4 separate regions of the Homo sapiens genome follow, and all the other regions are linked to region 1. The links come from fine-mapping of genetic effects on gene expression. A gene starts in region 1. Each other region holds a variant in brackets. All regions are shown on one strand. Distances are from middle to middle. Region 1 holds the start of RAB33B-AS1 (RAB33B antisense RNA 1). Region 2 overlaps NAA15 (N-alpha-acetyltransferase 15, NatA auxiliary subunit). Region 3 has its middle 53 kb from the start of RAB33B-AS1. Region 4 overlaps RAB33B (RAB33B, member RAS oncogene family).

What was found. PIP is the estimated chance that this variant, and not a neighbour inherited with it, causes the effect.
Region 2: its variant is fine-mapped to the expression of RAB33B-AS1 in whole blood (TOPMed, PIP above 0.99).
Region 3: its variant is fine-mapped to the expression of RAB33B-AS1 in whole blood (TOPMed, PIP above 0.99).
Region 4: its variant is fine-mapped to the expression of RAB33B-AS1 in whole blood (TOPMed, PIP above 0.99).

The regions. Positions count from the first base shown.
Region 1 is chr4:139,449,628-139,457,602 of GRCh38, forward strand. RAB33B-AS1 (RAB33B antisense RNA 1) reads right to left here and starts at 4,414. Exons shown (of 1, transcript NR_159964.1): 1 at 2,048-4,414. It overlaps RAB33B (RAB33B, member RAS oncogene family), which reads left to right and starts at 4,494. Exons shown (of 2, transcript NM_031296.3): 1 at 4,494-4,817. The coding sequence starts at 4,569. RefSeq lists enhancers at 3,782-4,121, 4,742-4,791 and a silencer at 4,192-4,521.
Region 2 is chr4:139,360,268-139,368,242 of GRCh38, forward strand. It overlaps NAA15 (N-alpha-acetyltransferase 15, NatA auxiliary subunit), which reads left to right. Exons shown (of 20, transcript NM_057175.5): 13 at 233-361; 14 at 1,457-1,670. Among named protein-coding and RNA genes, the nearest start is that of NDUFC1, 62 kb to the left of the region's middle. The variant A/AT (reference allele first, on the strand shown) is at 4,131.
Region 3 is chr4:139,397,368-139,405,342 of GRCh38, forward strand. No RefSeq gene overlaps it. Among named protein-coding and RNA genes, the nearest start is that of RAB33B-AS1, 53 kb to the right of the region's middle. The variant A/ATGC (reference allele first, on the strand shown) is at 4,205.
Region 4 is chr4:139,476,045-139,484,019 of GRCh38, forward strand. It overlaps RAB33B (RAB33B, member RAS oncogene family), which reads left to right. Exons shown (of 2, transcript NM_031296.3): 2 at 1-565. Among named protein-coding and RNA genes, the nearest start is that of RAB33B, 26 kb to the left of the region's middle. The variant A/T (reference allele first, on the strand shown) is at 2,307.

The DNA of each region.
Region 1 (7,975 bases):
CCCGTCCTCAAACATTGGACTCCATGTTCTTCAGCTTTGAAACTCGACTGCCTTCCTTTCTCCTCAGCTTGCATATGGCCTATTCTGGGACCTTGTGATCATGTGAGTTAATACTACTTAATAAACTCCATATATATATATATATATATCTCCTATTAGTTCTATTCCTCTAGAGAACCTGGACTAATAAAGAGAACGAGATAAAAGAGGAAACAACAGAGGCCATGATTGCACTTTTTACATATATCAAATATTGGCAAGTCTGCCATCCTAGCTTCCCATCTGCCTACAAGTGGGCAGAGCCATTTTTAACCTTTCTTACTGTGAACATACTTCAATTCACTTAGAATTCTTGAAGTCCAGGCCAAGCACCTCTAGGGTAAAATTTAGCATTCTGTTTTATCCAGGTGTTCACTAACGGTTCCATATTAATTTGCTTCTGCAGATAAAGTATAAATTCCTCATGGGCTAAAATCACACCTTATTTTGTATCTTCCCCTTGCACCAACCACTAGCATAGTACTGAGTACATAGTTCAAATGCCATTAACTCCACAGTGATCCTACCTATGAAGATATGACTTGAAGAATTCTGAAACTCATTAAGCTAACCTATACAAGGATACTAATTTACTATTTATATACTGAAATTAAAGCCCTAGTATGATGTCTGGGGTTACCAAACACAGTGATATAGTAATTTGGTGGAGGCCAGCAAGGCCAATGCCATACTTCTCAGGGTAACTGGAATTGTGTCTTCAAAGGAGAAGTAATTCCCACTATCAACTGGGAGGTACAGGGTATCAAACTTGTGAGAAGAGCCCTTCTGTAGGCTCAAGGAGTGCCAGTGGCATTCAAGGAGGAGGGAGGGAGAGGATTTTTGTCCCCAAGGGGCATCTAGCAACATTTTGAGACAGTTTTGGTTGGTGGTGGGGTGCTACTGGGATTTACTGGGTAGAAGCCAGGGATGCTGATAAAATAAACATCCTACAATGCACAGGATAACCTTCCACAACAAAGAATTATCTGACTTAAAATGTCAATAGTGCCAAGGTTGAGAATCCTTTCTTTCATAGGCAATCAAGGGAATTCTTTGTCCTCTGTGCTCAGACCTGAACTTAAAGAGTAAAATTATCTAAGAGCTGTTTCTGAGTAAGACAAGTTACGAAATGGGCACTGTCATCAGGAGGTGGCATATCTAGTTAAAAAAAAAATTCAGAAATTGAGTAGTCTTATTTTGTATATAAGATTATCCTTATGCTATTCTGTTTTCTACTTTTTTTTTTTTTTTTGAGACACAGTCTTGTTCTTGTCCCCGAGGCTGAAGTGCAATGGCATGATCTTGGCTCACTGCAACCTCTGTCTCCCAGGTTCAAGCGATTCTCCTGTCTCAGCCTCCTGAATAGCTGGGATTAAAGGCACCTGGCACCACGACTGGCTAATTTTTGTATTTTTAGTACAGATGGGGTTTCGCCACGTTGGCCAGGCTGGTCTCAACTCTTGACCTCATGATCCACCCTCCTCGGCCTCCCAAAGTGCTGGGATTACAGGTGTAAGCCACTGCACCCAGCCTGTTTACTTTTATGTTTTAGAGATGGGGGTCTCGCTGTGCTACCCAGGCTGGAGTGCAGCAGTGCAACTATAGCTCACTGCAGACTTGAACTCCTGGGCTCAAGAGATCCTCCAGCCTCAGCCTCCTGAGTAGCAGGAAGTAGAGGTGTACACAACCACACCCACTTTTTTTTTTTTTTTTTTTTTTTTTTGGAGACAGGAGGTCTCACTCTGTTGCCCAGGTTGGAGTGCAGTTTTGCGATTTCAGCTCACTGCAACCTCCACCTCCCTGGTTCAAGCGATTCTCCCACCTCAGCCTCCCGAGTATCCGGGATTACAGGCATGTGCCACCACACCTGGCTGATTTTTGTATTTTTTGGTAGAGACGAGGTTTCACCATGTTGGCCAGGCTGGTCTCAAATTCCTGGCCTCCAGCAGTGCTCCTGTCTTGGCCTCCCAAAGCGTTGGGATTATAGGCATGAGCCACCACACCCAGGTACTACTGTGTGATTTTAATATCCAATGTTTTTTCTTCTATTACAAAAGTATCTTTACATACTTATCTTACCCTAAGCCATTGAAATTGTTCCATTTTAAGTTGTACTGACAAAGGATCCAAATTTACAGTTTCTGCTCAGCTGTGTAGCAAAGTATTAAGGAAAGGGTTACATGTTCACACTTTGAGGCCAAGTGGTAGTGACTCCAAGGACAAAATGAACAGTCAAAAAACAGGGCTGTATAATCCATCCATTCTTTCCAACAGTAGAATTTCCTCCAATTATCAATTCTGGAGATTCTGGGGTTATTCAATTAAGAAGAGTAGCACATACTTCAGTCACATGAGGACACTCTCAAAATACAAGTTGAAAATACAAAACTCCTCATAACAATGTCAAGTGCCAACAATGATTTTTAAAATTTAAGTAGGGCTGAACTGTGTGTAACTGGTGAAATGTTCAAGTTAACAATCCTTACACACGAAATCTCTCACTTCACTGACTTAATTCATTATTTGCTGAATAAACAATAAACTTCCAGTCAGTAGTCAAGAGTTGGCAATCTAGCTGGTAGGACATAACATATAATCATGAAACAGCAAAAACAGTATTCAAAGATTAAATTAGCAATACCCCAAAATGTGTGTTAGAGTTAGCATAAAGAATTTCTGATGTAGTTTACCAAGAGCTAAACTAAAAAGTCCAGAATACAAAAAACAGGGATGCAATGATGTTAGTTTTTTTCACCATCCTTGAAATTCTCCCATTAACCACAGCTCTGAGTTTTCAACTGCTCTTTGTCCTTAAATCTTCAGATTCCCTCCTTTGAATGGGATAGGTAGAGCAGATTAGAAGAAATATATTCCGAGGCTCTCTAATAGTTTCTGGATGATTAACCTTCATGAAAATAACCTCACAGATAAGTAATTAGGATTTTTCAGCCCATTTCTATAAACTAAGTAAACTTTTTTTCTAGTGAACATAACTTGATATATTAGTGACTGTAGAAAGTCTTTCTACAGCAACAGGAATTATATCAAGGCTTTTGCAAATTCCTGGCAACTCCGGGCATGTTTAAGTTCTACTACTCATCTGTTCTGACTATATTTTCATCTGATGGAATAAGCAGTTCATCTCCTTTCCTAGAACTTTTAGTGCTCTACTGTCCCCCTCACTTTAGTTAAGGTCTGCCATGTCCTCCTCTCCGACAGTCCTTGACTTTCCCAATGGCATATTCATCTGCTCAAACAGATGTCACTGCAAAACAAAACAAACTTTTAACAAAAAGCAATGTTTGCATATTTGGGGCCTTTTGTATGACAATATTGCACGTTTCCTCAGAAAAATTCACGGAGATTCTTTAAGGTTGGGGGTTTAATCTATTGATATTTTCCTTAGGTAGACAAAGACAACCTCTAAGTGCGCTCAGTTAATCTTTAACCGCTACATCATCGTCACCCAGGCACTAAGACATAACTAGGGCATAATGAGTTTTATTTCCACCAGGGGCGCCTAGTAACTACCAGGTTCAACGCTCCCAGGTGGCCGACATGTGATGTGCTCTACTGTTTGGGCTGGGGATATTAGCTCAACAAACTCTGGCCACAAGGATCACGCGGATATTCTTGGGGATGCCTAGCGAAATGCGCTGTACCTAGGCCTCGAACTCTCGCCTGCTCTCCGGTGGGCGGTCTCGAACTCCAGCCTGCTCTCCGGCAGCCCACAGCAATGCGCCTGCCAAGACCTTAGGCTGCAAAACTCGCCACGGCCCAGAGCTCGCCTCCAAGTGCGCCCCGCACAGGGCAAGCTTTCGGCGAGGACTCGCGTCCCACCCATCTAGCCCTGGCCGCTGTCCCAACTCCCGCAGTTCACAGAGGCGGCGGCGGTGAGCGCAGCCGATGCCACATCCTCAGCGGCAAGCTGAAGAAACCTGTCTCCTCTCTGGGGCGACCAAACGATACGTCGATGCCGGAACCGACCCGACGCCGGAGCCGTCGGCTCCGTCCTTACCGTTGCTCTCCAGGTACACGCCCCCGTCAAAGGCGGCTCTGCGGCCCTCTCGCGAGAGAGTGCCCGTGGTACCTCCTTCCTCTCAGTTGTCTGTCTCTCCCCGCCCCCGGAGTGATTGCGCGGCTTCCTCCAGAGGGCGGGAACCTTGGACGTGGCGGGGCTGGGTCAGTCAGGGCGCTGGGCCCAGCCTCTCTGCAGGCTGGCCTTCCGCGCTGCCGTGAAGCCCCCGACAGGTCCCACGCCTGCCTAGGTAGACCGGCGCCAGCCCGAGTGACGCCTGGCGTGTGGCCGCGGGCAGGCGGCTCCGTGCGGCGGGGCGGGCGGGTGCCACACCTGTGCGGGCAAGGGCGGGGCGGGAAGGTGCGCAGGCGCGCTCGGGGCTGGTGGGCGGTGGCTCCTGGGAAGTTGCGCAGCCGAACTGGCCGGCTGGGCGCGCGCTCTTGCGGTGGCGTAATCTCTCAGCCTTTCTGTGTCTCCTTTCCTCCGCCTCAGTTTGGGGCGGGTCGGGGGAATGGCTGAGGAGATGGAGTCGTCGCTCGAGGCAAGCTTTTCGTCCAGCGGGGCAGTGTCAGGGGCCTCAGGGTTTTTGCCTCCTGCCCGCTCCCGCATCTTCAAGATAATCGTGATCGGCGACTCCAATGTGGGCAAGACATGCCTGACCTACCGCTTCTGCGCTGGCCGCTTCCCCGACCGCACCGAGGCCACGATAGGGGTGGATTTCCGAGAACGAGCGGTGGAGATTGATGGGGAGCGCATCAAGGTGAGCGGATGGGGAACTGTTGGGGAGGACAGGGTGACAGGTGTCCCAACCCCACCGTGGGCTGGTCGCTGGCCGTGTGCACGGTGTGTGTGCGCTCCATTTTTTTCTCACGCTGATGAGATTGGAGTTGGGGATTGGAAGGATTGCAATACTGCAAACTTCTAAGGCAGCGTTTCTCAGACTTCATTGTGCATGCGATTTACCTGGGGATCTTGTTTTTGAAAATGCAGGCTATGATTTAATAATCTCGCTGATGATGCAGGTGCAGCTAGTCCGTGGACCACACTTTGAGTTCAGGAGTGTAGGGCTTATCTACCGACCCATTTACTGTGTGTGTCGTGTGCTGGGAGTCAGTCAAATATGAACGGAGGAAAAACAGTGAAATTGCGCGAGAATGGAAAATTCATTTAATCAGTAATAGTTATTAAACATTCATTCGAGCAGTGCCTTAGATGTTGTGGAAGTAAAGCCTATTGCCTTTGAGGAAGTACTTAGGTATTCTCTTGCATACAGTTTTGCTGTAGTAGTTTCTTTATGATACTGATTTTAGAAAAATCTATTTTCCTGCAGAAACATTCTATATGTGATAGTTCCTACTCAGGTTGCCAAAAGCATTTCTCATGATGCCACCTCAGACACACGCCCAATTCTTTATTCCCTTTAAGTCGTTATTTTTGGTCCCTGGGACTGGGGACACTGAGTGACAGTAATAGTGGAGAAGGTAGTATAGGCCCCAGGGCAGGTTTGAAGTTCTGAGGGGTTGGAATCTAACAGTGGAATGAGGATCAATGACAAGGCTTAGGCCTCTTGATGGTATAAACCTTAGACACACCTTCATAGCAAGCCACCACTAAATGCCACCTGTTGATGCCACTCCTTAAAACATAGGTGGAACCACCTTGCCTTATACTACTGCTTTAAATCAGCGATCGTCTTTATCTCAGTCTCTTGGTGGGGATGGGGAGTGGTGGGAGAACAGGCTTGCTTTAGACGTTCCTACCCTCGTATCTTAGAGGCAAGAACAATTTATTTTTCAGTTCCCTAATCATCGCCCCCCACCCCAACGGGTTATACTGCTAATGATGGTAGAGGTGAAGTAAGCTGGGTTAAAAGAAATTAACCTTTCTTTGGTGCTTCTGTCTTTTAATTTTTCACATTAGTATTTCATGTCCCATATGAGCTCTCAGTGGTGGTTTTGGAGTTGCTTTGTATTAGGGAATTTAGAAAGATTTGTATACTTGCAGAAGAAAAGATAGAATAAAAGGCTAAACATTTTTCACCAGAATTAGGTTTGGCCCAGAAGCCTTTGGGGTGAAAAATAATGGAGCTTCTGAAGTTCCAAGGGAGTTAAGATTGGGAGAAGCAGGAATCTGGGAAGTACGTGGGCTTTGGAGCCCAACTAACCTGGATTCATATCTGAACCTACGAAAGGGTAGGGATGGGCTGCGTGTCCTTACTAGGGTGACCAACTTTGCCCAAGACTGTCCAGGTTTTAAAACTGGGTCTCACATCCCGGGGACCCCCTGTATTGGGCACACCAAAATAGTTGGTCACCCTGGACCTTAGGCAGATTCTTTAACCTCTCAGAGTCTGTATTTTTCTTCCGAAAAACTGGGATCATGATACCTTATCAGGCTGCTGTGAGGATCAGATGAGGACATATATGAAGCACCTGGTTCATAGTTGGTGCCTTTAAAAAGATTCTTTGTCTTTCCTGGTGGCTTAACATTATTTTTCCTGTTTGCCACCATTAGTTCTGCAGTTGTACACCCAAAGTTGAAAGCAGAGATAGTGGAGGGCATAGGTAGACAGCTAAGGGGAGAGAAATTTAAAAAACAAAACAAAAACAAAAACGGAAGTAGGAAATTCTTTCAAAAGTGGAGAGAATGAGGGTGGGGGAGGAGTTGGGATTTGAGGGCCCTTTATCTGTTCCTGGGTTGCCATTTATACTTAAAGATAACAGATGAATCAGGTGCAAATTTAAGAGATAATAGTATTGAAAAAATATAAAGCATGTGCAGTGTATAAAGTCAATTACCTAACTACTGAGGTGAGTGCTGGCAGTGATAAATAAGACAGAACCACAGGTATGACGAATCTGGGAGCACAGAGTTGATAATTCTGGTTGGGAAGAGCAAGGAGATGATATTTTTTGGGGAGATTATTTCTACTGAACTTTAGCCTAACTTGTTACATTGATATGGACTTGAATACTGAGATCATTTTTCTTCTAAGGCCCTAGCCGTTGATTTGTGCCACCAATGGTGAGACTTGAGAGAGATTTTTATTGTGGTTGAAATGACTACAGACATGTTCTGAGGTTTCTATAGTAGGAAAAGATATAGCTATGTTGGGCATTTTTTAAAACCACAGAGCTTAATTTTTTTTAGTGCCCTTTTTTTCGAAAACTGAAAAGTGATATAAAGAGCTTTATTCTATGTGCTGCTTCTGCTGCTTTTTGGTTAACCTGTAATACATCTTGAGTGCTGCTGAAATGTTCATATTACGTCTTTGGAAAATTGTAGCCTGATCTAAAATGACATTTTTCCTAATTTTTCATCTCAAAGCTGGAAAGCTCTATTACTTTACTAGTAAAATGCCATTCTAGACATTATTTCTTTGATAAAAATGAGATATTGCGTTAAATGTTTTGATAATCATGGACTAGAAAATTTTCAGAAAGCATGACTTAACAACAGTGCCCTTTCAGAATCCGTTAAAATGTTTTATGAAATTTAAGAAAGCCTATATCTGCTAATCCATTCCTAAGCAGTATGTGCAGGTAGTTGAAAGAGGAAAATCTTGTTTGCAAAATTTTGGAAGTCGAATAAAATTATAAAATTAAATTCCTTAAATACAAATACATTCGGCTTTTAAATTGAGACTCCTAACTCTAATCCTTATGCTCCTTCCTCGTGTGTATATCCCCTTCATGACTAATTGTATTCCTTTAGCACAATCATTTTCCAGTGGCAGACACACCAACCCATTAAAGCCTGGTGTTGTATTTAATCCGGCCTCCCATTAGAGGTCAGCAGGTCCTACTTGAACATTTTAGTAGCTTACTTTTTTGTAGCGGTAGAAATGAAATGTTCCCATGTTAAGTGCAAAATGTTAATATTAACTAAAGGAAAATAATCAGGACCTCTCCCCACACT
Region 2 (7,975 bases), 89 kb before region 1:
TGAACACACAGTGTGTGTTCAAAAGTTTCACAGTTTCACCTGTGAAACTACAAATTATTTTTAGTAGTTAGAGAATATCAGTTGTTTTCCCATGTTAACTATTCTTTAAGAATGTTTTAAAAATTTTTTTGAAAGAGTCCCAATCAGCTTAACATCTTTGTTTTTTAAAATTCTGTGGTAGAATGATGTCTATGATAAAAAGTGATCTTGAAAATATTTGATTTCTGTATAGGAAGGAACATCAGCGGTAGAGAATTTGAATGAAATGCAGTGCATGTGGTTCCAAACAGAATGTGCCCAGGCTTATAAAGCAATGAATAAATTTGGTGAAGCACTTAAGAAATGTCATGAGATTGAGAGAGTAAGTACCTTCTACATAAAAGTTTTCTTGTTTTATTCTGTCGATGGTTTTGGACAAATTTCATAGTTTTTTTCTCTTCTATTTCTTTATAATTCATAGTAGGTGCTTTTTAAAATCAGTATTCACTTTTTTCAGTTTTCATACTGGAAATATAGACTGCATTTTCAGCCAGGGTCTCTATTGTCTTGTGGTAAGAACTCTTTTTTAAAAAACTTTATGGAAAATTTGTATCTTGGCTATGTTTTTATTGATTTTTGAACCTTCCAAATTGCTGCTGCCGCTTTAGTAGTACATACACAGCTGATTAAAGTACTCCTAGGACCCTGTTCATTGTAGAATTTATTGATGATGCCATATACCCTTGGTAAGATATAAATGTTGGAAGACTTTTCACAATATTTCTTCTGTAGCTTATCTAATTTCATGCTGTTTGATAAAATTGTTTTCTTAATTCTCTTCACGTCTGACTCATTTCCATGACTAGTGGTTGGTTTTTCTTTTTTGTGTTTTACACAGATAAACATAGTTTATATAACTAATTTCACATTTGCAATATTGTCAAGTATAGAATACCAAAGCTTAGTTGAAATGCATCAAGTTCCTGATTGCTTGACTTACTTGCTAATTGATTTCTTTTCCACATACCAGCATCACATTGCATAGGATTCAGATTTGTATCCTCAAAAAAAAATTATCAAATACATCTTATAATCCTTTGCAAATGATTCTAAATATAAAAACTCAATGTTTAACATGTGAGTCTACTTGCACTACTATGTAAATAAATTATGTTTGATGTTGTCACAATAGCTTTAAGTATAATTAAGGAAGGGATAATGAATAAACATTTTTAAAGCTTCCTTTTTCAACAAATGATTCTGTGCCTGCAGTATGCCATATCCTGTGCTAGACAATGGCTAACTGTATTTGCTTATTTGAAATGCAAAATATTCCTGTTGAATAATTGTAATTGTTTTTTTAAAATTTTACTAGTTTTTTTCATGCCAAAGTAACAAGTATTCCAATGCTTTGATTTTATAGTTTTCTTAGCCATTGCTGTACTTCGGTATAATAATAAAAAGATAATTTTGTTAGCATTTTATAGAAATCACTGATGACCAGTTTGACTTTCATACATACTGTATGAGGAAGATTACCCTTAGATCATATGTGGACTTATTAAAACTAGAAGATGTACTTCGACAGCATCCATTTTACTTCAAGGCAGCAAGAATTGCTATAGAGATCTATTTGAAGCTTCATGACAACCCCCTTACAGATGAGAATAAAGAACACGAAGCTGATACAGGTATAATATTCAGAGTTCTTCTTGTGCTCTGATGTGTTTATGTGTATTTATGTGTATTATGTTTTTCATTTAATAGTATTGCTCCATGTCTTGAGCACCACGAGGAAAGATATTATACAAGGTTCTCTAAACAACAAAAGAAAAATGTTTACTTTTATGCTTCCAAAGTTAAACAAGAATTTAATTTGCAGTTATTCATTGGCATTTAAGAAGTTTGCATGTTATGAGTTTTACATTTAATATCTGGTTTACCCAAAATTATAAATTGCTAACTATTTTACAGGTACTAGATTGCTAATTGTATAATTAGTATTATAATTCTACATTAGTGTTGGCTATTAGTATTACTAGTTATTTTTTTGAGATGGAGTCTCGCTCTGTTTCCCATGCTGGAGTGCAGTGCATGATCTCGGATCACTGCAACCTCCCAGGTTCAAGCGATTCTCCTGCCGCAGCCTTCTGAGTAGCTGGGATTACAGGTGCCCACCACCACGCCTGGCTAATTTTGTGTTTTTAGTGGAGACGGGGTTTCACCATGTTGTCCAGGCTGGTCTCGAACCCCTGACCTCAAGTGATCTGCCCACCTCGGCCTCCCAGAGTGCTGGGATTGGCCTCCTAAAGTGCTGGGATTACAGGCATGAGCCACTATTCCCAGCCTATTCCTCTTTTTAATAGTAATTTATAATTAACCTACTAAAAATGAATATTGCTTGAACATTAAAAACCAGCTTGGGATAAAGCTAGGAAAATTGCACAGTGACTTATCATTTGACTCATTTTTAATGTACCGTTTTTATAGTAGGGTATCGGAATGACTAGGGAGAAGTCTTTCTTAGACAGTTATTTGGGACAGAACCTGAGAATGAGTGATCTCATACGTACAAAAATATGAATTTTGTGCCTTACTCATGGCAAAAATGTTGTAGGAATTGGGGCATAAAAAGTGTGTTTAATTTTTTTTTCTTTTAAGCCTATTTCTTTTTTGAGGATATGATTGGCTACTTTCTATATCCTTCTTCCTGCTAAACAGCTTTTGAATTATTTTGCTAATTTGTCGTTAAGTTTTACTTCCTGTTGCCTAAGGACAGTTTAGAAATTTCTAAGGTCACATACTGAAGCCTTTGTACAGATATCACTTGAATCTCTTTCTACCTGTTGGTGTTGCTTCAACTTAGAAGAAAACACCAGTAAGAAGAATCTGCTGGACAATTTACTGTTAAAGTTGAGAGCTATGACCCTCTGGCTTCTTTTGTTTTTCTTTCTATTCTTCTGCCTCCCTCCTTCTCTTCTTCAAATTATACAAATAATACACAATTAACTTTTCAAAGCTGAGACTATTAATACAGAAGTATACTTAGCAAATATGAAGATCCCCTTTCACTTTTCTCCCACCCATTCTTCATTCCAGCAATTATCCCTGTGAAAGGATCAATTCCCTTTATGCACAACTAGTTTCCAGAGTTCTATGTGTACATATACACATGCATTTCAGGATGGTTCTTTGCAGGGTTTCTTGTTTGATTTGTTTTTCTTTAGTCCATAATTGGGTTTATATCATACTCAGTGTTCTGCAACTTAGACTTTTTACCCCATTTAATAGTATTGCTCCATGTCTGCATATCATAATTATTATTTTCACTGTTAACATTTTAGTGACTGTAGGAATCTATGTGAATTTTTTCACCATTATAGTACTATAGTAAATGTCCTTGTACATAATTATGTGCATATTTATTTAGCATGGATTATTAGAAGTGGAAATCGGTGGGTTGAAGGATATGAGAATTTGGGATAAAAGGTTCATCAGTTTTTATTACCACCAACATGGGTATTGAGATTTTCTTTTATTTTACATTATTGCCAGCTCTGAAGGTTATTGTTCTTTTACATTTTTGTATGTTGGGCAAAATATCTAGTTTACAATTAATATATTTTATTTGTTTGTTTGTTTTGTTTTGTTTGAGACAGGATCTCATACTTTTGCCCAGTCTGGAGTCCACTAGTGCGATCATAGCTCACTGCAGCCTTGAGCTCCTGGGCTCAGGCAGTCCTCTCAACTCAGCCTCCTGAGTAGTTGGGACTACAGGTGCGTGCCACTGCACCCAGCTAATTTATTTTTGTAGAGACATGGTCTTGCCATGTTGCCCAGGCTTGTCTTGAGCCCCTTGGCTCAAGTGATTCTCCTGCCTTGGTCTCCCAAATTGTTGGGATTACAGGCATAAGCCACAATGTTTGACCAATTTCTAGATTTTTAATGGAGTGGATTATATGTTTTCTTTTTTTCACTTAGGTTTTATCCTTTAAGATGAGTATCTTTCATTATATACAAGTTTTAATTTTTAATATTTAGTCTTTTTTTGTGGCTTCTAGGTCTTGCTTAGAAAGGCTTTTTCTACTTAAAAATTTAAAATATATTTATGAATATCTTCTGTGTTTTTCTTCTAATACTTCTGCTTTGCA[A/AT]TTTTTTAGATTTGGCTCTTTAAACATTTGGAGTTAATTTTTATATACGTTGTAAGGTGGAGGGTGGCTTTCCACCTCCCTTCCTCCCCAAAATAGACTGCTATTTCCTCTGTAATATTTATTGAGTAGGTTTTTGTATTCCTCGCTGATTTCAAATGCTACCTTTATCATGATAAATTCTGAAAAAAATAATGTAGTAGGTCATAGGCATGGTTTCTTGGTCTAACATATATTAAAGATATGATTAAAACTACATGGTATTGACATCAGTACACAGATAGGTTTCTGTTGTTATGATCCATTTTTCTCAATCTAACACTGTGTCTTTAGAATTTTCGTGTTTTTACATGCAGATTTTTGCTTATGCATACACGGTAGAATTAGCTTGTCTTCCAGAAAGTTTCTGATACTAGGTTGAATCATTTTTCAGTTGATTTTTGAAAATTTTCTATGTAGGCCAGTATGTTAATCTGTAAATGGCAGTAGTTTTATTTCTTTCAATATTTATACCTTTCCCCCTTATGTCTTCTGGTATGGTTAGAGTTGCTGAAACAGTGGTGATTAGTAGGAACAAAAGTGTATTTGCTGCCTTTTTTTCTATAGAGGTAGTACTAATAATGCTTCATGATAAATTTTAATATTTATTTATTTATTTTTGAGATGGAGTTTCGCTCTTTTCACCCAGGCTGGTGTGCAATGGTACAATCTTGGCTCACCGCAACCTCTGCCTCCTGGTTTCAAGCAATTGTCCTGCCTCAGCCTCCCAAGTAGCTGGGATTACAGGCGCCTGCCACCACTTCTGGCTAATTTTTGTATTTTTAGTAGAGACGGGGTTTCTCCATGTTGGTCGGGCTGGTCTCGAACGCCTGACCTCAGGTGATCCACCCACCTTGGCCTCCCAAAGTGCTGGGATTACAGGTGTGAGCCACCACATGCGGCCTACATTTGTCTTTTTAATCATCTGGAGTTTAGTATAGCATAGAAGAAGCCTAGACTTTGGAGTCCAAGTGAAGTAGATTTACATCCTTGCTCTGCCTTTTACCATGACTCTGAGTTATTTTCCTCTGAAACCTCAGTTTTCTCGTATATAAAATAATATTATACTCTAATTCGTGAGGTTGTTGAGGACATCAAATGAAATACAATGTATGGGGTATGGGCTGGGTGCAGTGGCACACACCTGTAATCCCAGCACTTTTGGAGGCCAAGGCAGGTGGATCGTTTGAGTCCAGGAGTCCGAGACCAGCCTGGGCAACATGGTGAAACTGTCTCTACAAATACAAAAAAAACCCCAACCAACCAAACAAAATAGGCATGGTGGTGAGCACCTGTAGTTCTAGCTACTCAGGAGGCAGGAGTGGAAGGATCTTTTGAGCCCTGGAAGTCAGAGCTGCAGTGAACCATGTTTGCCACTACACTCCAGCCTGGACGACAGAGTGAGACCCTGTTTCAAAGAAAAAAAGAAAGAGAGAAAAAATATAAGGTATGCATTATATCTATCATGTAGCAAGGCTACAAGTGGTAGCATTTATGTTACCAGTTGTTAAAAAGGTCAGTGCTTATGTTGCCATCCATTTATAGTTTTGTGTTTCCAGAATGTAATTTTTTGGTCTCTATTAGAATTTTTTTTTTTTTTTGCGTTTTGTTTTTAGTATTAAGAGATTCTTCACTAGGAGAAAGATAAACAAATAATGCATTTGTTTTCATTGGCTTTATGTTATCTATTGCTGCATCATAAATTAATCCCTAAATTTAGCAGCTTAAAATAACCCTTTTTTTGGGTCAGGAATTCAGAAGTGTCTAAGTGACTCTGACTCAGGGTCTCTTAGGAAGTTGTAGTTGAGATTTTGGATGGGCATGCCATCATTGGAAGGCTTGGCTAGGACTGAAGGGATCCATTTCCTAGATGGCTTACTCAACCTGGCTGTTGGCATGAGACCTTAGTTCTTAGTCTCTCCATAGTTTCTAAAGTTTCTGAAGACATGGTAGCTAATGATGACAGAGAAAGGAAGAAGCTGCAACACCTTTTTAATGTTCTGTTCTCCTGACATCACACCATTACTTCCTTCACATTCTAATTGGTCAGAAAAGAGTCACCAAGCACAACCTATATTTGAGGGGAGGAGAATTGAAGAATTTGTAGACATAAGTTTAACTGCCGTGGTCTGCATTTTGGTTACAAATTATTTACATTATCATTTTTGGGTTTTTTTTTTTTTTTAAATTTTTGAGACAGGGTCTCACTCTGTCTTCCAGGCTGGAGTGCAGAGACTCAGTCATAGCTCATTGCAGCCTCAAACTCCTGGGCTCAGCCAGTCCCCCAACCTCAGCCTGCCACGTAGGTAGGACTACAGGCACATGCCACCATGCCCAACTAATTTAAAAATCCTTTGTAGAGGTGGGGTCTTGCTATGTTGCCCAGGCTGTTCTCAAAGTCCTGAGCTGAAGTGATCCTCTTGCCTTGGCCTCCCAAAGTGCTGGGATTACAGGCATGAGCCACCACGCCCAGCTTACATTATTCTTATATGCAAAATATAGTTAGCCATTTCAAGGCCTTCAGAAGTCTATCCCATTGTAACATTAGCTTAAAGTTCAGAATCTTGTCATGTAAATCAGGTACAGGTGCTGAAGCAGCTCCTTGAGTATAGTTTTTTATTTTTATTTTTAACCTTAAGTGTGACATTTCAATTATAGTTCTTTTAATATGAAATCCTGTTAACTAAAATTACAAGTTATTTATCAACTACACACCCAATATAAAATGAGACAGGCATAGGATGACCACTGTAGACATTATTAGGAGACACACAGGAGTTACCACGTCCATCCTCAAGTCCAGTGGGGCATGGCTTAATAGTTCTTTGATGAGGACCCAAGACTGGAATAATTTTCTGTGGCTCTTGGCCCTGCCCTCTGAGTTCCTGGTTCCACTTTCTGAATTACCCTTTTTTTCTTTTGGAAGTTAACAGTTGTTTGCAACTGAGTAGTTTTTCAGTATTCTGACCAGTAAAATATTGAGAGTCTAAAGACCTCTTTTCATTTTGTGCTGTCATTCTTTTCCTTCCAGATTTACTATTTCTGCCCATAGAATAAACATCATGAATCTTTTGTGAGTCTTATTGGAATCCACGTATACTTGAGCTTCTATGGAGGGGAGAACACCCTTAAGTTCTTAGAAGTTTTATTGTTTGAGAGAATCTGTGAGTCATACTCTTAAATTTTTTAGAGAGCCTTTCTTCAGACTAAATAGTGAGGCACCACCATATTCTGAGTAACAAAAGATTGTAATGCCAAGCCCCTTTGCCTTCCCTCTTGACATATTTTTTGATCTTTGCCCAGCAAGCCATTTCTGGAGAGACTGAGAGTTTTCAAAACCATCAAGCCCCTGTCTCTTTTCTTTAGTTTCTTTGTCCTCTTACATTTTTCCTGGGCACTTTGCCTGAAAATCCCTTCAGTTAGTTAGTTAGCTCACTGAGTCCATTTGACACATTTTATAACACTGTTGCTAAACTTTCTGCTACTCTGTGGCTATTACATATCCTTCACTTCATTTTAAGGGCTCATCTGCAGCCTCCTCAAAGTCTAGACTTCTATGAATAGTCCAAGGCTCTTCAAACTTCCACTAAAGCCCTACTCAAAGTCTGTCCACCTTTTGCAACTCCCTGGCTCCAAAGTTATTCCCACATTTTAGGTTTTTGTTACAGCAGTATCTCATGTCCAGGTACCAAAATCTATGTTGTTTATCTATTGCTGCAAAACAAATTACTCAAAAACATAGCAGCTTTAAATAGCAACCGTTTATTATCTGACTGTTACTATGTGTCAAGAATTCAGAAGTCACTTAG
Region 3 (7,975 bases), 52 kb before region 1:
TCCCGCCTTGGCCTCCCAAAGTGCTGGAGTTACAGGCATGAGCCACCACGTCTGGCCTTTTTTCTTTTTGAGATAGGGTCTTGCTCTGCCCCCGGGCTGGAGTGCAGTGGCACCATCACAGCTCACTGCAGCCTCTACCTCTTGGGCCCAAGTGATCCTCCCACTTTAGCCTCTAGAGTAGCTGGGACTACAGGTACACGCCACCATGCCTGGCTAATTTTTTGCATTTTTTGTAGAGACAGGGTTTCACTCCAGGCTGGTCTCAAACTCCTGGCCTCAAGCGATCTGCCCACTTTAGCCTCCCAAAGTGCTGGGATTATAGGCTTGAGCCACCACACCTGGCCTAATTCTAGTTATCTTGCAATTTCTACCACATCTGCAGTTACTTCCTCCATTGAAGTCTTGAACCCTTAAAAGTCATCTCTGAGGACAGGAAACAACTTCTAAACTCCAGTAAATGATATTTTGCCCTCATCCCATGAATCATGAATGTTCTTATTGATATCTAGAATAGTGAATCCTTTCCAGAAAGTTTTCAATTTACTTTGCACAGATCCATCAGAGAAATCACTATTTATGGCAGCAATAGCCTTACAACATGTATTTCTTAAATCATAAGACTTGAAAGTTGAAATTGCTCCATGGTCTATGGGCTATAGAGTGGACATTGTGTTAGCAGGCTTGAAAACAGCATGAATCTCGTTGTCCATCTCCGTCTGAGCTCTTGGGATACGAGATGATTGTTAATGAGCAGCAATATTTTGAAAGGAATCTTTTTGTGCAGTAGATCTCAATGGTGGGCTTAAAATATTCAGTAAATCATGCTGTAAACAGATGTGCTGTCTTCCAGGCTTTGTCCCATTTATAGAGTACAGGCAGAGTAGATTTAGCATAATTGTTAAGGGCCCTAGGATTTTCAGAATGGCAAATGAGCATTGGCTTCAATATAAAGTCACCAGCAGCATTAGCTTTTAACAAGTCAGCCGGTTCTTGGAAGATTTGAAGCCAGGCACTGACTTCTCTGTAGCGGTGAAAGTCTAAGGTGGCTTCTTCCAATAAAAGGCTTGTTACATCTACATTGAAAATCTGTTACTGAGTATAGCCACCTTTAACAATGGTCTTAGCTGGATCTGGATAAACTCCTGCAGCTTCTACATCAGCACTTTCTGCTTCACCTTGCACTTTTATTTATGGAGATGACTTCTTTCTTTAAACCTCATAAACCAACCTCTACTAGCTTCAAACTTCTGTAGCTTCCTTACCTCTCAGTCTTCATAGAATTGAATTTAGAACCTTGCTCTGGATTAGGCTTTGGCCTAAGGGAATGTTGTGGCTGGTTTGATTTTCTATCCAGACCACTAAAACTTTTTCTCCGTATCAGCAATAAGGTTTTCTTAGGTGTTTACTGGAGTAACACTTCTAATTTCCTTCAAGAATTAATGGTTTGGCACAAGACCCTAGCTTTTTTAGCCTGTCTTGGCTTTTGACATGCCTCTTCATTAAGCTTAACCATTTCTAGCTTTTGATTTACAATGAGAGATGTACAAGTCTTCTTTTAACTTGAACACTGGGAGGCCATTGCAGGGTGATTAATTGGCCTGATTTCAGTATTGTGTCTCAGGGAATAAGGAGGTTTGAGGAGAGGGAGAAAGATAGGGGGATGGCCGGTTGGTAGAGCAGTCCGAACACACACACCATTTATTAAGTTCGCTGATGTTATATGGGCACAGTTTGTGGTGCCCACAAACGGTCAAAATAGTAACATCAAAGATCACTGACCACAGATCACTGTAACAGAAATAATAATAATACAAAGTTTGAAATATTGCAGGAATTACCAAAATGTGACACAGAGACACAAAATGAGCACATGACTTTGGGGTGGCATTAACAGACTTGTTTGTTGGAGGGTTGCCATAAACCTTTAATTTGTAAAAAATGCAGTATCTGCAAAGTACAGTAAAGCAAAATGCAATAAAATGAGGTATGCCTGTGTTTATACTTGCTAGTACTTTATACTATTTTACCTTTCCCACAGTCAAGAAAACCACCCATCTGCCACTGTTTTTACATTCATTGAAACCTTTAGTAGTGTTAACAAACTTGGCAAACTTCATAATGCCTCCATCCATCCAGTAGTTATTGAATGCCTGCTATCTCCAGGTGCTATACTTCACACTGGGGGTACATGACATTGTCCTTTCTCTCACATTTTTCACAAGCTCCTAAAGGAGACAGACAAGAAGTGAATGCAACAGCAATATCTAAACTCCTGGGAGTCAGCACTCATCTCTGTTTGGATAGGCTAGGAAGAGCTTCAGAGAATGTTGAATTTAGGTATGTGAAACAATAGTGTATTCAGGAGCTTTATGTAGCCTAGTATAAACAGAATCTGAGAAATGAGACTGGGGCTCAGATTAAAGAATTAGGTGATTTAGGGGCTGGGCACAGTGGCTCACGCCTGTAATCCCAGCACTTTGGGAGACCGAGGCGGGCCCATCACCTGTGGTCAGGAGTTCGAGACCAGCCTGACCAACATGGAGAAACCCCATCTCTACTAAAAATACAAAATTAGCCGGGCGTGGTGGTGCATGCCTGAAATCCCAGTCACTTGGGAGACTGAGGCAGAATTGCTTGAACCCAGGAGGCGGAGGTTGCAGTGAGCCAAGATCACACCATTGCACTCCAGCCTGGGCAACAAGAGCAAAACTCCATCTCAAAAAAACAAACGAAACCACACACACACAAATTAGCCGGGCATGGTGGCAGGCGCCTGTAATCCCATCTACTCGGGAGGCTGAAGCAGGAGAATTGCTTGAGCCCGGAAGGTGGAGGCTGGAGTGAGCCGAGATCGTGCCACTGCACTACAATGAGACTCCATCTCAAAAAAAAAAAAAAAAAGGAAAACACACCTTCACACCTTTTCTCAAAACTAGAAGGAAGGGAATCGTTATAAGTTTGTAGATGTGAAAGGAGAGATTTATATTAGATGTTCTCCAAATTTTTTGTGAAGTAGGAAGTGATAGGTGATATTACTTATGAAGTAGGAGGGTGCAAAAGGTTAGTTTAGAGGCTTGAAGAGAATAGAGATGGTTTGGAATAGAGCTGATGAAACACAAAAACAGTAATGAACAGGGTTAACCATGGAACTGAATTTGGAAATCATGAAAGTATGGTGATTTTGTGATTGTTTCTAGCATCTCATCTGAATGGCTTACAGGGCCAGGTAGATTATAGGACTGATCCAGAATTGTGATTTGGATAATGGATATAGGAGAAAGATAAGGATAGAAGAGAATTGAGAGCATTTGTGCCAGGCAGGATATAGAAATGTGAGTTGGAAGAGATAACCCAGGGATGGAAAAATATGGAGGGTAATTGAAAGCACTGACGAGGCCAGCCTTGGTGGCTTATGCCTGTAATCCCAACACTTTGGAAGGCTGAGGCAAGAGGATTGCTTGAGCTCAAGAGTTTGAGACCAGCCTGGACAACACTCCATCTCTACAAAAAACACAAAAATTTGCCAAGTGTGGTGGTGAGCTCCTGTAGTCCCAGCTACTCAGGAGGCTGAGATGGGAGGATGGCTTGAACCCCGGAAGTGAAGGTTGCAGTGAGCCAAGATCGGGCCACTGCACTCCAGCTTGGACGACAGAGCAAGACCTTGTCTCAAAAAAAAAGAAAAAAAAGAAAAAGAAAAGCACTAGAGCAGGTCATATGACCAATTTAAGAGATTGAGGCCAGATACAGAAGGAAGCGGGATCAAGAATAAACTGGAAGAAGAGGTGGCATTATAGGAATGGAGGTCTCAATGAGGTTAATGATCAGGTGCACTGTGGGTAATATGAATGGAAGCATAAGGGTATGAAAATCACCAGAACCGCTCCATAACAAAGTGGGGAGTGTGACCAAGGGAATGAGGTTGAACTGGCGTTGGAACTGTGATGGTTGGATGTTCAACCGACATTCCACATGAATGTTGAAATCTCCTAGGAAATGATTAAATGAATTTGGGGTTTAAAGGAATAACATGATGTAGGTATTAGGGACAAAGCAAGGTGAAGGGTGACAAAATTGAATGGAATGAACTTCAAAGGAATTAAAGGTTTTATAAGCGCTGAGTGTATAGGTGGATTTATTTATAGTGGAATAGGTTGCCAAAGCCCATACTTGAAAGGTTGGAGGGAGGGCATTGTGTGTTGACAGG[A/ATGC]TGCTATCCAGTACACAGTTTGGAGACAAGAATTGAGAGGAAGCTGATGGATGAGAGGGAGCTGCCTTCTGAGCAGTGACCAAGCATAATTGGAATGAAAAGTTTAGATGGTACTAAAGTTTCTCAGCTTTTGGCCAAGTTATTTTGAGCAAAACTTACAAGGTGAAGGTCGCAGGCCGTGTTTGGCCTATCTTTGTGAGGGTGTCTTAGATCCATGGTGTAGTGGTAACTGCTGGATCCTTCCAAGAGCTGCTGTGCAAAATGGTAACTAGTTGCATTTTGCTTAGTCTGTATGAACTTCCTTATGGTTTAGGACATGCAGCCATTTACTTGCTATACTTTCTGGCATACATGGCATGTAACCCCAGGAGACAGAACCCAAGGATTTTCTCTACAGGACTTCACTGTGTTTAGCATAAGAATCAGTATCTGTGCCTTATATAAGATGCAATTCCTTTTTTCCTCTTTTGTTAAAGATAGATTTCATTCACCAGTCTGTTGTAGACAGTATGATACAGTAGAAAAAAAAGCATGGACTCATACAGAGCCAGGTCTGAATCCTGGAAGCTTCTTGGACAAGTCATTTAAATTTTCTGAGTCTTAATATATCCCAAGTATAACAGACCTTGTATATAAAGTGCCTAGAACACAGAAAGTACTCAATGAATTTTTTCTATCATTAGTTATTAAATAAAAGTCGTAAGAAAAACTATCTGCCAAGCACTGTTGTTAAGTCCTGGGAATCCAAATATGAATATGACATGATCCTTGCCCTAAGATCCTTATAATTTAGTAGAAGGAGAGAGAAAGATAAGTATATTCAATGACATAACAGATGCCTTGGTAGATGCATAGATGGAAAACAGTGGGAGCCCAAGGGGGTAACAGTAAGTTCTGCTTGCCGGCCTGAGGTGGAGTGAGAAGGTAGGGAGCCTCCTTAACTATTCCTTCTCAATTTTCTCTACTCTTCTTCCTTCCACTCTATGTGCATATCTATTTTAAGTCTAGGCACATTTCCTGAAATAGACTCAGCGTGCCTTATGTCTACCCCAGTGTGTCAGCGATAATGTATGTGCTGAAGCGTCCAGATCTCTATAGTGAGCATCACACCATATATTCAGTTGTCAAATAGATGTTTGTTCTTAGATACACCGTGAGTGCCTCCAGCTCAATAGGAGTAAAAATGAATTTTATTATCTCAAAACCTGCTCCTCCACTTTTTGGACACCACCATGCACTCAGTTGTGAAGTCAGAAACATGGAAGTCATCTTTGGTGTTTCCATCTTCCTAATTCTCCACAGTTGGCTTTCAGCAAGTCATATTTATTATATCTGCAGAACATCTTTCAAACCCTCCAACTTCTCTCCATTTCCATGTTTATAATCCTAGCTTAGTACCATCATCTCTTGCTTAAATTACTCTTGCTTAAATTAACAAGCTCTCCCTGCCTCTAATCTTACCTCCTTTTAATCCATTCTGTATACTAAAACCAGAATATTATTTCTGACATACAAATCTAATTACTTCCTTTCCTTGCTTAAGGTCTTTCAAAAAGTTCAAAGCTTTCCACTGCTTCTAGAATAAAATAGCTTACAGGACACTGCAGAATCTCATCTCCTCTTATCCACTGCTTTCATTTTAGATAAACTTCCCACTAATTTTCCCTAAACCTTTAACTCCTGCTGGTGCTTGTTGGAGCTTACATATTTTCTGTACTTCTGCTCTCGTAGCACCCACTACACTGTATTCGAATGCTTAGTTGTATGTTTCCCTGACTAGACTAATCTCTATAGGGCAGGGATCAAGCAGATTGTTTTATTTTTGTTTTGCTTTTGAGTATGAGTGTGTGTGTTTGTGTAATATGGAAGAGCCTTGAGCATGAGGTAGTCACAGGATACATAATCACCTGCTTGGGTTGAGGCATATAATTACCAGGGGCAGCATGGGCTGCACTATGGCAGTCACATTCACACTCCTAGGAAGGAGATGTAATTGGTTAGGGGCTTCTGTGTGTTCCTTGTAAGTCTACAAAAGAGAAATAGAACATTGTCAAGAATGTTTCAACAGTATACTCAGTATTCAACAACTAGATGGCAGTGTCGTCTCTACAGTTTATATCTAAATGAACAAGTTGATTAGGTTTACTCTCAGTGAGTTGCCTGTTTTTACATTTTGCATGACGTAGTGTATTAATCCATTCTCACACTGCTATAAAGAAATATCTGACACTGGGTAATGTATAAGAAAAGAGGTTTAATTGGCTTACGGTTCTGCAGGCTGTACAGAAAGCATGGCAGCATCTGCTTCTGGGGAGGCCTCAGAGAACTCTGAATCATGGCGGAAGGCAAAGGGGGACCAAGGCATCTCACATGGTAGGAGCAGGAGCAAGAGAGAAGGGGGAGGTGCCACACACTTTTAAACCAACCAGATCTCGTGAGAATTCATCATCACGGCGACAGCACCAGGGGACGATGGTGTTAAACCATGAGAAACCACCACCATGATCCAATCATCTCCCACCAGGCCCCACCTCCAGCATTGGGGATTACATTTCAACATAAGATTTGGGTAGGGATGGAGATCCAAACCATATCAGGTAACAGGACTGTTTATTCCATTTTTTACTTATAATCTGAATTTAAATGTTCCCTAATTATAAAAACTGAATTAATTATTTTAGAGATAGGATCTCACTTTGTCACATAGGTTGAAGTGCAGCGTTGTGCAGTTTGAACTCCAGGCCTCAGCTTCCTCAGCAGCTAGTACTACAGGTGAGTGAGTGCCACTATGCTTGGATAAACATTTTATTTTAAATTTTTTTGTAGAGATGTGGTCTTGCTATGTTGCCCAAGCTGATCTTCAACTCCTGGCCTCAAGGGATCCTCCCGCTTCAGCCTCCCAAAGCATTGGGCTTACAGGTATGAGCCAACATGCCCTCTAATCTATTATTCTCTAATAAAAAGTTGGGCAATTTCAATCTATAGGAATAAAATAATCATTTTACCTTATGCAGGGTATTTAGTCATTTAACTATGATAGTTTATAGGTAATCATATAAGCACTTTTGGCTTAATCACTATGATTATATGTCCTGGAAATTAAGACACATACACACTCTGATTTTATTAAACTTTACACTGAACTTTTAGATTCAACATTAGATGGTTTAAAAGACAAAGGTGATGTCTCTCAAAGAGAAGTTTTTTTTTTTAAAAAAAACAGCTTTATAGGGGTAGAATTTACATAAAATAAGCCGTTCATATTAAAATATACCACTGACACGCACAGAGTTGCGACCTCATCCTTACAATCAAAGTAGTAAACATATCTATCACCCCAAAAAGTTTCCTCATGCCTCTCTGTAACGCCCCCCTCCTACCCTTCTCAGTACCTGCCCTCAGTTTTCTGTATGTGTAGATTAGTTTGCATTTCCTAGAGTCTTATATAAATGAGATCATATAGAATTTATCTTTTTCTGGGTCTGGTTTCTTTCAGCACAATTACTTTGAGATTCATCTGTGTTGTTGCATGTATCAATGGTTAATTCCTTTTTATTTTTGAGTAGTATTCCTCTAGTGTTGTAGAAAAACTAATTCTGAGCTTCCTCCTGCTAGTGGAAGAAATTACTACAATTTGGGACTTCTGTCTCTTAAACATTTAAATGAGCCTTTCTGACCAAAATAGGCTGATATTAATCTATATTAATATTGTGCCTGTGTGTGCTTTCATTGTTGCTAATGAAAATTTCAGCGTTAACTCTACAAATTGTG
Region 4 (7,975 bases), 26 kb after region 1:
ATTGGACAATTATTTTCTTGTATACATTTGAGGTCAAAGAACACTTCAGGAAAAAAACTCAACAAAGTATTAAAATTAGCTGATAACACAGCTTTTGTATTTGTGTGTTTTAGTAATCCAGCTTGTTTTAGAATAGTTCAGTGCAAAAAGCAAATGGTGCAAGAGGAGTTGATGTGTATTTAGACGTAAAAGCATTTAACAGAATGAATAACTATAGAAAGTATGAGAAAAGAGAACGAACTACGTCTCAGGTATAAGATTGCAGTTACTGATTTAGACACCATAGGATTAGGGATGTGGGGGCCTCTGATGTTGATTCTGCTTCCCCTGGTCAGTTTATTTTACGTATAAGTTACCCTTGTGTTCAAACACAAAATTGACATTATTCATGAAGGACTGCTTTCTTAATCAGATATTAAGAAGTTCGTCATGTATTTTGGGAGCACGTTTGCTACAGCCTGTGTGGCAAGGGCGAATGCACTTGGTTTGTTGGAATAACCTGATTTATCAAACATTTATCAAGTATGGGTCATGTGTTCTCTATTTGTGTTAGTGGAGCTACATAGACACTGTCCTTGAAGAACTTACAAAATAGTATATGAACAAATAGGAATTCTACAATATACTGTGATCAGTGTAATCAAAGAAGCATATACAAAGGACAATGAGCACAGAATATGGAGTGGTCTTTTGACTTGGATATGGGAGCAGTAGATAATCAAAAAGCTTCACAATGAGTGGAAGCATTTATGCAGCATCTCAGGGTAAATGTGAGGCATTCTCCATGTAAAGGAGAGGGAAGAAAGTCATCCCAGGTGAATGCACTGCAGGGCTCAAGAGTGGAGTTGAATTTGGGGGGAATGACTGCTAGGTCAGTGTGAGTATGTGATAGAATGGAGATGTGGTCAGAACACGGAAATGAAGCTAGCAAGGTAGATTTTGGTTAAACTGCCAAGTTGCCATAAGCAGTGGGATTAGGACTGGCTTGGGTGCAGTATCTGAAACTCAGTCTGAACCAGCCTATAAGGGGGATTTTAATGTAAGGAGTCTGACTTGTCTCACTGGACTTGAAGACAAGGATGTGACTGGACTAAAAGAAGAGCTGGGATTGAGCACACAGTTTCCTAACTCTGGGTCCAGCTTCTCTGCACATCTGCATTTTCTCTTTCTTTTATAACTAGATTTTTCCATTTTTTAAGTTTAATTAGCAGAAAACATGGCCACTGAGTACTTCTGAACTTTTGGATGCTGCAGTCATTCAAAGAGAAATGAACTCTCAGTCTCAAGTTGAAATTTCCAGCATAGACTGTTAATTGGCCTGGCAAGATCCAGGTGTCCACCCAAGACCAATGGCCAAAAAAGATAAAATAAGCAATTTCCACATTTAGGGGAGAAGGTATTTTGGGGGAAGGGGAGCAAAAAAAGAAGATAGCCACACAAAAACATTTGAACTTTACTATTTAGGCAATGGGTAACTAATGAAAGCATTTTGCAAGGTAGTGAGACCGTTAGATTTATGCCATAAATTCCAGCGGCAATGGGAAGGGTGAGGGGATGAAGTCATGGTCAGTCAGCTTACTGAAATAGCCTAGAAGAAACAGCTTTAACTGGAGCACTGGCAGAAAAATACAGATTTGAGATATTTCAGAACTAAAACCCCCAGGAGTTAGAGACCAAGGTCAGGAATTTCATTGCATGAACTAGTCAGTATTCTTTTCTAGAGCTGCTAGTTGCACTCATGTATGTGGCCAAATGTTTTTTTAAAATATCAGGCTTTGGTTTTATTTTTTAGATTATTACATTGCTTTAATTTGCCTTTATCAAAAGTTTGATTCTTGTGATTTATTTACATATATGTTTTTCAGAGTGTTTTGAGTCAGATGAAACTTGTCATTTAAAATTTTTAAGTTGTATATCCTAATGCTTTTTGGTATTTTTCTTGTTCTGAGTAGTTTAATTATAGAAGATTCTGTATATTTTTGAGTCCCAGAACATTCTTTAAATTACAAAAACAATTCAACTTTTGTTTTGGTTATTCATTCCATAAACTTAACAGAGTATATGGAGCCATTTTATTACTTCTCAGCTCCTCATTATTAATCTTTTCTTGCTGCAAATGGAGAGTTCCATGTTTCAATAAAATGTGATCAGTAATGGGACTTCTTTTTTTAAGTTAAATTTTTGTATAGGAAATACATTCACATGGTTCAATACTTGAACCATTCACAAAAGAGTAAATGGTGAATTCTCCTTCCCACTCTTTCTCCCAGCTCCTCAGTTCTTATCACAAGGAACCAGTACCATGA[A/T]TTTTTTTTGTTTCTGTTTTTGTTTTGAGACAGGGTCTCAATCTGCAACCTAGGCTGGAGTGCAGTGGTGTGATCTCAGCTCACTGCAACCTCCACCTCCTGTGCTAAAGCAATCTTCCTACCTCAGCCTACCAAGTAGCTGGGACTACAGGTGCACGCCACAACACCCAGCTAATTTTTTGTACTTTTTGTAGAGCCACGGTTTTGCCATCTTACCCAGGCTGTTCTGGAACTCCTGGGCTCAAGTGATCCATTCACCTTGGCCTCCCACCCCAGTTCCCACGCTGGGATTACAGGTGCGAGCCACCACACCTGGCCCCTGAATTTGCTGTTTCTTCACATAACAGTATACCCTGGAGATGAATTCATGTTAAAATATGTAAGCTTCATCATTCTCTTTTAGGTCTCATGGAATTCCTTTAGTTGGCCATTATTTAGATAGCCCTCTACTGATGAACATTTAGGTTGTTTCCAGTCTTGCTATTACAAGCATTACCAAAATGGATATCATTTTACATAAGTAATTTCTCAAATGTGTGAGTATATACAAAGGGAAAATTCCTAGAAGTGACATTGCTAGATGAAAGGTATCTGTGTTTGCAATTTGGGTTTCTAATCGCCCTCCTCAGAGGTTGCACTAGTAATAAAAAGCATGCCTGATTCCTCACACACTCACAACACAGTCTATTATCAAAGGTTTTGACATTTGGAAGGAACATTAATAGGTGAAAAATGATATCTCACTGTGGTTTTAACTGGCATTTATCTTATGAGTAGGGTTGAGCATCTTTTTATATTTAATGTTTACATTTTGTTTTCTGTTGAATTGTCTGTTCACATTCTGTCAGGTTTTGTTTTTTTGCCTTTTGTAGGGATACTGAATATTTTGGGTAAGTTAGTGATGTTTTATTTTTTTTTCCTAGTTTGTTTTTTGCCAAATGGCATTGCTTCTAATGGTTTTTGGCATGAAAATAATTTTAATGTAGTGAAACTTAGCAGTCTTTTCCATGACTCTCATTTTGTGTCATAATTAGAAAGACTAACCTTGCCTGAGATAAGAATTCTCGGCCAGATGCAGTGGCTCACGCCTGTAATACCAGCACTTTGGGAGGCCCAGGCGGGCAGATCACTTGAGGTTGGGAGTTTGAGACCAGCCTGGCCAACATGGTGAAACCCCGTCTCTGCTAAAAATGCAAAAATTAGCCGGGCATGGTGGCAGGCGCCTGTAATCCCAGCTACTTGGGTGGCTGAGGCAGCAAAATCACTTGAACCCGGGAGGCAGAGGTTGCAGTGAGCTGACATTGTTCCACTGCACTCCAGCCTGTGGGACATAGTGAGACCCTGTCAATCTCTCTCTCTCTCTCTTTCTCTCTCTCTCTCACACACACACACACACAAGTGAATGTTAGCTATGTACTGGATAATTATGATGTCTCAATGTAGGTTTATCAAATGTAATAAATGTACATAGTGAGGGAGGCCGTGTGTATGTGTGGATGGGCAGGGGCTCTGTGGGAACTTGATGGTTTCTGTTCCATTTTTCTGTGACCCTAAATCTGCTCTAAATATAAACATTATTTTTTTATTATACTTTAAGTTCTAGGGTACACGTGCACAATGTGCAGGTTTGTTACATATGTATACATGTGCCATGTTGGTGGGCTGCACCCATTAACTCGTCATTTACATTAGGTATATCTCCTAATGCTATCCCTCCCCCCTCTCCCCACCCCATGACAGGCCCCGGTGTGTGGTGTTCCCCACCCTGTGTCCAAGTGTTCTCACTGTTCAATTCCCACCTATGAGTGAGAACATGCAGTGTTCTGTCCTTGCGATAGTTTGCTCAGAATGATTATAAACCCTATTTTTTTAAATAGATGTGTCAGAGACTGCAGGTTGCCTACCCAATTTTTGTCTTCCCTCTTGTATTAATTTCCTAGGCTGCAGGAAAAAAGTACCATAAATTGGGTGGCATAAAAAACAGGAATGTATTGTCTCACAGTTCTGGAGGCTGGTAGTATCAGTAGTGTTGATTTCTTGTGAGGCCTGTGAGAGAGAATATGTTCCATTTCTCTCCTGGCTCACTGCAGCCTCGACCTCCTGGGCTCAAGCAATCCGCCAAGCTCTGCCCCCTGAGTAGCTGGGAACACAGGTGCATGTCACCATGCCCAGCTAATTTTTAATTTTTTTTTTTTTTTGAGATGGAGTCTCACTCTGTTGCCCAGGCTGGAGTGCAGTGGCGCCATCTCAGCTCACTGCAAGCTCCGCCTCCCAGGTTCACGCCATTCTCCTGCCTCAGCCTCCCGAGTAGCTGGGACTACAGGTGCCTGCCACCATGCCCGGCTAATTTTTTTGTATTTTTTTAGTAGAGACGGGGTTTCACCGTGTTAGCCAGGATGGTCTCGATCTCCTGAACTTGTGATCTGCCCGCCTTGGCCTCCCAAAGTGCTGGGGTTACAGGCGTGAGCCACTGCGCCTGGCCAATTTTTAAATTTTTTTTGGTAGAGATGAGGTCTCCCTAGGTTGCACAGGCTCATCCCAAACTCCTGGGCTCAAGTGATCCTCCAGCCTCGGCCTCCCAAAGTGCTGTGATTACAGGTGTGAGCCACCATGCCTGGCCAGATTTTTTCCTCTTTTTTGTGTGTGTGTGATGGAGTCTCGCTCTGTTGCCCAGGCTGCAGTGCAGTGGCATGATCTCGGCTCACTTCAACCTCTGCCTCCCGGGTTCAAGTAATTCTCCTGCTTCAGCCTCCTGAGTAGCTGGGAATAAAGGTGTGCACCACCACGCCTGGCTAATTTTTGTATTTTTAGTAGACACAGGTTTTCACCATGTTGGCCATGCTGTTCTCAAACTCCTGACCTCAGGTGATCCACCGGCCTCAGCCTCCCAAGGTGCTGGGATTATAGACATGAACCACACCACCCAGCCCAGATTTCCTCTTCTCATAGGGATGCCAGTCATACTGGATTAGGGCCCATCCTGATGACCTCACTTTAACTTGATTACCTCTGTTAAGGGCCCTGTCGCCAAACAAAGTCACATTCTGAGGTACCAGGGATTAGAACTCCAATATCTTTTTTCGGGGGGCAGGGGCACAATTCAGCTCGTAACACATCTCCCTCTTTTCTTACTAACAGAACCCTGGTTTCTTTTGCTGGCCACATAGCCCACTAGATAATCAGTTCCCAGCCTCCTTTGTAGCTAGGTATGGCCACATATCACAGTTCTGGCCAAAGAGATATGAGCAGGTGCTTGCCAGGGATTTCCAGGGAAACTTTGCTTTCCTGTAAAGAGGCCTGCCCTTTCCTCTGGTTGCTTCCTCCTCCTCTGTCCATGGCTGGCACGTGGGAGGGAGGCTATAGCACTGGCATGGATGCCTTGGCATTACAAAATGCTCTGGAGAACAGTGTCCTGCAGCTACCACACCAGCTCAGGCTACTTACCTCATGATTTTGCTGAGAAAAACAATCCCCACTGTTCAGGGGATTTGAGTACCTGTAGATGAATGCAATTCTAACTGGAAGAACACTTGAGGTGAAATGTGGAAGAGACTTGGGGACATTGGGACTAAAACTTTTGGATGACGATTGCACTATCCCTGTTTAGGGACTGCCCGTGTGGTCAGGGAGCAATTTGGGGCCCACTCACTGCCCTAGCGCATCAGTCCTTCAAGGAGAGGAACTTGCTGGGAGAACCTGAGTTAGTGCCTTTCTACCAGCCTTTAAACCTGCGCCAGGGGAAAACACCGTTTTAGGGACTTAGTGAACAATGGGTGCGCCATGCAGATGTCATTCCTAGGCAACACCCTAGGAGTGGCAGAGCAACCAAAGAGAAGGAACCGGGGTCCCAGATGCTGTGCTGCTACCATCACAGCCCCAGACAGTTATGCTTGGACCAGTAAGTGAGAGTCAAGTAGAAGACTTACATCTTGTTCGAGCCAATGTTATTTGGGCTTAACTAATACCTCATCTAAGTTATCCTAGAAAAGTACATCTAGCTTTAAATTGTTAAAATTTGTCAGTCTGTGATAAAATTGATGGTACACAATTTTACTACTGTATGAAAATATATGTGTAAAGTCTATTATGGAACTGGTATACGTTAGGGATCTCACCTAGCTCATTTAAGAAGAAAGGGACTGGCAGGGCGCGGTGGCTCACGCCTGTAATCCCAGCACTTTGGGAGGCTGAGGCAGGCAGATCACGAGGTCAGGAGTTCGAAACCAGCCTGGCCAATATGGTGAAACTCCATCTCTACTAAAAATACAAAAATTAGCTGGGCTAATTAGTGGTGGTGCATGCCTGTAGTCCTAGCTACTCAGGAGGCTGAGGCAGAAGAATCACTTGAACCTGGGAGGTGGAGGTTGCAGTGAGCCGAGACCCCACCACTGTACTCCAGCCTGGGTGACAGAGCGAGACTCTGTCTCAAAAAAAAAAAAAAGAAGAAGAAGAAAGGAACTTAGAGAATTTGGGGTAGCTTATGTTATCTTTAGGAGGACCTGGGACCAAAATTTGGATGCTACAAAGACAGGGACAATAGTAGCCAAGATAAATGCCCAGATGTTGTAGACAGTTGACTGTCACCACTATCTCTCCTCAGCACCTATGACACTCAGGACTGGCCACAAAATGTCCCCAAAGCTGTCCCAGAAGTACTGAAATCTTCAACATCACACTGGAAAGAAAGGCCATTCTCCCTGTGACCCTGTCTCTACCCACTTCCTAGAACTGAAGCTGCAAATATATCTTGGGAATCACAGGTTTTATCATCCCAGGCTCTGCAGCAGGAAAGCACACTAGAAGAGGATGGGGAGGCGTCGAGTAAGCCAGTCAGCATCTGCTGCAGAAAGTGATACTACGCCTCTGAAGCTCTTCACTGGGAAACACAGCATACTGCTATTTTCATGCATTTCTGAAGTACTTCTAAAGTGTGAACTAAAAAATCCTTGCTAATTTGGTGATTTGTTATATTTTCATAAACTCCTTATGCAAATGTAAGATTAGTAAATGTTGCCTACTTCTGAGAGTGTATTCTTCCATTGTACATCCAAAGGTGCTATGGAGCATACATTTTTTAATTCTGAAAACATTGGGAACTTAATCACGTAGGATAAGGTGTATGACCAGCTAGACAGGGAGGCACTCCCTGAGCCTTTTTCTTCCATCCTCTTCTGGCTGAACACCCTTTCCTTTACGATCTCACCTTCAGAGTTACTTGATTCCTGAACCCATGTTTAGAGCCTCACCTTTACCTCTGAAATCCTGAATTGGCTGCTGCATGTGGGCCATCTTTCTTTTGCAGTATCTGTGGACCACTCAAACATGTAATTTAAAATGTATAAACAGTGGGGCATGGTGGCTCACACCTGTAATCCCAGCACTTTGGGAGGCTGAGGTGGGAGGATCACTTGAGCGCAGGAGTTTGAGACCAGCCCAGGCAATAAAGAGAGACACCATCTCTACAAAAAATTTAAAAATTAGCTGACTGTGGTGGTCTGTACCTGTGGTCCCAGCTACTCAGGAGGCTGAGGTGGGAGGATCGCTTGAGCCCAGGAGATTGAGTCTTCAGTGAGCCGTGATCATACCACTGTACTCCAGCCTGGGCAACAGTGAGACTCAGTCTCAAAAAATAAAAATAAAAAATAAAATAAAATGTATAAACTCAATCT